Linked DNA regions of Homo sapiens. The protein of the gene in region 2 interacts with the protein of the main gene of each other region in a pairwise test. Each region holds a gene or a part of one and is shown on either strand. Other genes may lie near its edges.

Region 1 (3,652 bases), on a different chromosome or scaffold from region 2:
CGAACTCCTGACCTCAAGTGATCTGCCTGCCTCAGCCTCCCAAAGTGCTGGGATTACAGGTGTGAGCCACTGTGCCTGACCACGAATTTATTTCTTTATTTTCAGGCTTTCTTGTTAATCATAGATTATCTTTGAAAATTCAAAATTAGGCTGGGCGCGGTGGCTCATGCCTGTAATCCCAGCACTTTGGGAGGCCGAGGTGGGTGGATCATGAGGTCAGGAGATCGAGACCATCCTGGCTAACACAGTGAAACCCTGTCTCTACTAAAAATGCAAAAAAATTAGCCGGGCCTGGTGGCGGGCACCTGTAGTCCCAGCTACTCGGGAGGCTGAGGCAGGAGAATTGCTTGAACCTGGGAGGCAGAGCTTGCAGTGAGCCGAGATCGCGTCATTGCACTCCAGCCTAGGCGACAGAGCAAAACTGTCTCAAAAAAAAAGAAAAAAAGAAAATTCAAAATTATTTTTAAATAAGTACATTGGTATTTAATGTATTTTTTGTTTCTATTTATCATTATAGGGAAATGGTAGGTGAATTGTATTGTTACTCTTATTAGAAAAAATTTCAAAGAAAGAATCTGAAATGAAATGAATTGTAAATTGCACTGAATATTTGAAATAACCTTTACTATGTGTTTCTATGTGTTTTCTAGAAATAGGTCATTTTCTTTTTGCCCTCAAGTAAAAAATGGAAGTTCTCCTTTAATTTCTTACTTTTCTTCAAGAGGTAAACAAACTCTTCAAGAATTTGGTGTGCAACTTTGATTTTTTTTTTTTTTTTTTTGAGACAAAGTCTCACTGTGTTACCCAGACTGGAGTGCAGTGGCAGGATCTTGGCTCACTGCAACCTCTGCCTCCCAGGTTCAAGCAGTTCTCTTGTCATGGCATCCTGTAGCTGAGCCTGAGCGCCAGCTGTCACTCCTGGCTAATTTTTTTGTATTTTTAGTAGAGATGGGGTTTCACCATGTTGGCCAGGCTGGTTTTGAACCTCAGGTGATCTGCCAGCCTTGGCCTCCCAAAGTGCTGCTAGGATTACAGGTGTGAGCCACCGCCCCGAGCCGCAACTTCAATTTTTTTTTTTTTTTTTTGAGATGGAGTCTCGCTCTGTTGCCCAGGCTGGAGTGCAATGGTATGATCTCGGCTCACTGCAACCTCCGCCTCCCGGGTTCAAGCATTTCTCCTGCCTCAGCCTCCTGAGTAGCTGGGATTACAGGCATCCGCTGCTACGCCCAGCTAATTTTTGTATTTTTAGAAGAGACGAGGTTTCACCATGTTGGCCAGGCTGGTCTCGAACTCCTGACCTCAAGTGACCCACCTGCCATCAGCCTCCCAAAGTGCTGGGATTACAGGTATGAGTCACTGCACCCGGCCTGCAACTTTGATATTTTAAAAAGAAATTCTTTTGAAACTAAGAGCTTTCTTAATAACCGTACTTCTCAAAATCAGAGTTTTACTGTTTCAATAAATGTTCACCCTAGATTGTAAGTTTTTTGTTGTTGAGCCCTAGATTTTTTTCTACTAGTGTAAATCTGTATTCCCTCCAAGTATGGTGATAAGGGGACTGAGTCTTATTTACATTTGTACAATCACTACTTTACCTGTTGTATTTGCAGTAAGTCTTTTGAGCCCTATTAAACCTGTCAATTTTCTTGTCCTGTCAGAAAACTGAGATTTTGGCTCAAAAATGGATGTTATTAACAAAGGGGAACAATATAGATGTCTTAGTACAAAGAAAATGAAATGTAAGAGGAGATTGTCTGGAGTTCAGGGGATAGAGTGTCAAGTCTTAAATGGTTACATCTTTTTGCTAAGTGTTACTCAGAATATAGTTACAAATATGGTACTTAAATATCTAGCTGAAATTTGTTTGTCCCATGAGCTTCTCACATGAGTCTACTGGGCAATTTTATGTGAGTTTTGGTCAAAATTGGTAATCTCTTTTATCTTAGTTTTGCATAATTTATTGTTGCCATTTTATCAAATGAGTAGGAAGTAGTGAAGTATTTCAAGAAGATTGCTCAGTGGGGTTTGATACAAGAACTGCCCAGTAGCTGGGCGACATTCAGAGCTCTCTCTCTGAGGTATATAAGAAGAGCCCTGGGAGCTCCTCACTGAGCCTCCTGTGAGTCAGGACATAGCCTTGCAGTCTGCCACTGAAGCAGCCTCACCAAAGCAAAGATTCCCTGCTTTGGAAGGGTGGTGGGCAAGATAAAGTCCTCCAAAGTAGTTATAGATTATTCTTTTTCTGGAGTAAAACTTACCTGCTCAGAGTTGTTACACAGCTGTATAAAGTCCTTAATGCTTTTAATTCTCAGGTGGTTTTGAGGGAAGGAGAAGAGCCTGTGATTTTCCTTCTGTGTATCTTTTTAGTGCTTAGAAATTACTTGCCAAAAAAAAAAAAAAACACGAAATTACTTGCAAGCTGGTTATGGTTGCTTATGCCTGTAATCCTAGTGCTTTGGGAGTTGGAGGTGGGAGGGTATCACTTGAGCCCAGGAGTTCAAGACCAACTTGGCAGCATAGCAAGACCCTATCTCTAAAAAAAAATGGGTATGTGTGGTCCCAGCTACCTGGGATGCTGAGGCAGGAAGATTGCTTGAACCCAGGAGTTAGAGGTTACAGTGAGCCATGATCATACCACTACGCTCCAGCCTGGGTTACTTGCAAACTAACAAAAAATCCCTTATAATTTTGTTTGTAATGCCTAAAGTGTTGATTTTTTTCCTAAGAATTCTTTACTGTGACCTTTATTTTCTGAGTTGTAATATTGTCTGTTTTGGTTAGAAAAAAAAAAGTTTAACCACAGAAATGCATGTTACATATTTGATTTTTACTTAATTGTAATATGTAATATATGTCTTGTTTTGCTTTTACTTGTTTTCAGCTACTACTTATACATGTGTGATAAAGTGGTTGCCCCAAATGTGTCACTTACTTCTGCTGTATCCCAGTCTAAAGAGCTCACAAAGACAGAGGCAAGTAAGTCCATATCAAGACAGTCAGAGAAGGCTCACAGTAGTGGTAAACTTCAAAAAACAGTGTCTTATCCAGATGTCTCACTTGAGGAACAGGAGAAAATGGATTTAAAAACAAGTAGAGAATTATGTAGCCGTTTAGGTAAGTATTCAGAGATTATCTTTCTAAAATTAAATATCTAATGAACACATTTATTGAGCATTTTCAAACAGGCTTTTTGTTTGAGCTAAATTTTCAGATAATTGGAGCTTTTACCTTTAAAAATGCTACCCTTCAAAACTCTGGGTGATTTATTTTAATCTCAGTTGCTATACTTTTCTAGCGTGGTGATAGCTCAGGAGACTGAGATAGATACAGGCTACCTGGCCTCAGACTGCAAGTTATTTTTGTCCGAATTTTTTTCCTTTCCTACCTTTTATTTGCTGTCAGTCTTCAGGAGATCCTTGTTTTTCTTTCCTCCTTTTTTTTTCTTTTTTTGTGACAGAGTCTTTATCGCCTAGGCTGAAGTGCAGTGGTGAGATTGCGGTCACTGCAGCCTCAACCTTTGGGCTCAAGTGATCCTCCCACCTCACCCTCCCTAGTAGCTGGGACCAGAGGCGCACACCACTGTGCCTGGCTAATTAAAAAAAAAAATTTTTTTTTTTTTTTTTGTAGAGATGGTCTTGGTATGTTGCTCAAG
Region 2 (3,652 bases):
CTAACTTCAAACTATACTACAAGGCTACAGTAACTAAAACAGCATTGTACTGGTATCAAAACAGATATATAGACCAATGGAACAGAGCAGATGGCTCAGAAATAATGCCACACATATACAGCCATCTGATATTTGACAAACCTGACAAAAATAAGCAATGGGGAAAGGATTCCTTATTTAATAAATGGTGCTGGGAAAACTGGCTAGCCATATGCAGAAAACTGAAACTGGATCCCTTCCTTACACTTCATACAAAAATTAACTCAAGATGGATTAAAGACTTAAACATAAGACCTAAAACCATAAAAACCCTAGAAGAAAACTTAGGCAATACCATTCAGGACATAGGCATGGGCAAAGGCTTCATGACTAAAACACCAAAAGCAATGGCAACAAAAGCCAAAATTGATTAATGGGATCTAATTAAACTAAAGAGCTTCTGCACAGCAAAAGAAACTATCATCAGAGTAAACAGGCAACCTACAGAATGGGAGAAAATTTTTGCAATCTGTCAATCTAACTAAGGGCTTATACCCAGAATCTACAAGGAACAGATACAAATTTACAAGAAAAAAACAACCCCATCAAAAAGTGGGTGAAGGATATGAACAGACACTTCTCAAAAAGAAGACATTTATGCAGCCAAAAAACATATGAAAAAAAGCTCATAATCACTCGTCATTAGAGAAATGCAAATCAAAACCACAATGAGATACCATCTCTCACCAGTTAGAATGGCGATCATTAAAAAGTCAGGAAACAACAGATACTGGAGAGGATGTGAAGAAATAGGAACGCTTTCATATTGTTGGTGGGAGTAAATTAGTTCAATCATTGTGGAAGACAGTGTGGCAATTCCTCAAGGATCTAGAACTACAAATACCATTTGATACAGCAATCCCATTACTGGGTATATACCCAAAGGGTTACAAATCATTCTACTATAAAGATGCATTCACACATATGTTTATTACAGCACTGTTCACAATAGTAAAGACTTGGAACCAACCAAAATGCCCATCAGTGATAGACTGGATAAAGAAAATATGACACATATACACCATGGAATACTATGCAGCCATAAAAAAGGATAAGTTCATGTCCTTTGCAGAGACATGGATGAAGCTGGAAACCATCATTCTCAGCAAACTAACACAGGAACAGAAAACCAAACACTGCATGTTCTCACTCATAAGTGGGAGTTGAACAGTGAAAACACATGGACACAGGGAGGGGAACATCATATACCAGGGCCTGTCAGGGGCTGGGGGACTAGGAGAGGGATAGCATTAGGAGAAATACCTAATGTAGATGATGGGTTGATGGGTGCAGCAAACCACTATGGCATGTGTATACCTATGTAACAAACCTGCACATTCTGCACATGTATCTCAGAACTTAAAGTATAATTAAAAAAAAAAAAAAACGGCAGTGATCCTGAGCTCTGGGGAGACTGCAATGAGCAGAGCCCTCCTGCCAACTTGTATTGGACTTGTAGCAGGATTGCAAAATTGACTTCTGTTTCTTTAAGCCACTGAGATTTAGCATTATTTCTTACTGTAGTATCAGCTAATAGCTACCTTTTTCTCTATTCAATAGCACTTGTGCCCTCCACCTACAAATTTCAACTCTGATTCTACAGCAGTGATTCTGGGGCCTAGCTGCACATCCAAATAGATCTTGGAGCTTTAAAAACATCCTGATGCCCAGACTTCACGCCAGACCAATCACATCAGAATTTACTTGATTGGAAGCTGGCATTTGGTATGTTTTTTAAAACCCCAGGCAATTTTGTTGTGCTGCTGCCAGGGCTGAGGACCACTGTCATAATAATGGGGACCTGAGAAAGCTCTGTCAGTTGCCAGAAGTCGTTAAGCTTCCTATTATGAGGACTTGCCATAGGACACAAATAAGCCCAAAGATTACAGTACATTTTCTGCTTGTAACAGCTATTCCTACTTGTACGGACTTTGAAGTGATTCAGTTTCCTCTACGGATGAGAGACTGGCTCAAGAATATCCTCATGCAGCTTTATGAAGCCAACTCTGAACACGCTGGTTATCTAAATGAGAAGCAGAGAAATAAAGTAAGTTATCCACAGGTTAGCTTCTTCAATGTCTGTCTACAGGGCATGAGGAAGAAAGACGTGGTGGGGGGGCTACCTACCTCTGCATACTGGCAAAAGCCCACTATGCTTCCCCATGCCCGGTTAGCCCATGTGGCTTAACAGAATAATAGATGTCACCATTCACGCCACAAGGTTTCAGACACCACCAAACCGCCCCATTCTTCCCAATGGTCAGTGGCCTGAATTAGGGCTCTTCAATTCCTACCTAGAGCAAGCTCTGGTTGAGCAAAGTTAATATAAATTTAGCATTGATCTAGTCAGTCCAAACATCTTATTTAAATCTAAGCATTTGTTTTGTTCTCATAGGCCAGACATAGATGTATGATATAAAGTAAATCCATTACTCAAAATATCAGTAATATATTAAGATTAAAAAGCACAGAACATTGATTCCAAAAGCTTCCAGAGAAAATTCATTCACCAGATAGTTATTGAGTGTATCCTGGGTGCCAGAAATTGACCTAAATACTGGAGATACAGCAACGAAAAGAAAATCTCTGCCTTCATGAGTTTACATTCTGGGTGAAGAGACAGACTCTAAACAAATAAGTATATATGTGTGTGTGTATGTAATGTTTGTATATGCATATATTTGTACATACATATATATGCATATATGCAATTATATATAGTAAAATGAGCATTTATGTAAATATAACCAAATCAGCAAATATATGTATAAGTATGTCAGTTGGGATTAAACATGGTGTGAAGACAAATAAAACAAGAAGGAGGGTGTGCATTAACTGTGTCAGATGCTGTTTATAGGTTATGAGTTGAAGACTGAGAATTGGCCAGGGATTTAGCATGTCAAAGTCATAGCTGACCTTGATAGGAACTGTTCCTGGGGTGGGAGCATGTTTCAGGAGGGAAGCTCCAGTGGACAGAGTTCAACAGAGACTAGGAGGAATGGATGCAGCAAGTATAGACAATCCTTTCAAGGAGTTTTGCTATGAAGAGATAAAGAGAAATGGGGTGGCAGCTGGAGTGGAAAGTGAGTACAAGAGTCCCACCTAGCAGTGGGAGATGGTAGAGGATGTTTGCACGCTTCTGGAAATAACCCAGTCAAGAAGGAAATGTTAGTGGGGAGCAGAGAATGCGCACAACTGCCAGAGGGCGTTCTTCGATACATGTCCCACCCAGAGGAGAGGGATTGGACTTAGGTTAGGAGCACAGGAAGGTCGCAGGGAGCAAAGTTGTGGTTCTGGGAGCAGGTGGAGGTCCTGTTTGCTTCCAATTACTCAGTGAAATAAGAGGCAACATCACAAGCTGAGAGTTTCACAGGCACTGCTCAAGAATAATTTCTAGCCCCCGTCTTGAATACCTTGTCACAGAGAGCCTTGAGGGTATTAGCTATGAAACAGGGAAATTTCAATGGGGCTGGCCAAGCAATAACACACCAGGGTGAAAGCAAGACTGAGTGGGCACTGGATGGATGACCTAGAAGACTAAGAGTGGACTCTGTCATCGGGGGAAGGAGCAGCACTTTTCACTAACTAATCACCTTAGTCAATTCAGCCCTTT

What was found. The genes of interacting proteins can lie anywhere in the genome.
Region 1: the proteins of SPARCL1 (region 2) and SKIL interact in a two-hybrid assay, tested with the Homo sapiens proteins (one large-scale study listed by BioGRID).

Annotation. Positions count from the first base shown.
Region 1 is NC_000003.12:170,381,652-170,385,303, forward strand, and holds part of SKIL (ski-like protein), read left to right. Parts: intron 1-2,881; coding exon 2,882-3,114; intron 3,115-3,652. UniProt on the Homo sapiens protein: May have regulatory role in cell division or differentiation in response to extracellular signals.
Region 2 is NC_000004.12:87,480,858-87,484,509, reverse strand, and holds part of SPARCL1 (SPARC-like protein 1 isoform 1 precursor), read left to right. Parts: intron 1-1,949; coding exon 1,950-2,086; intron 2,087-3,652.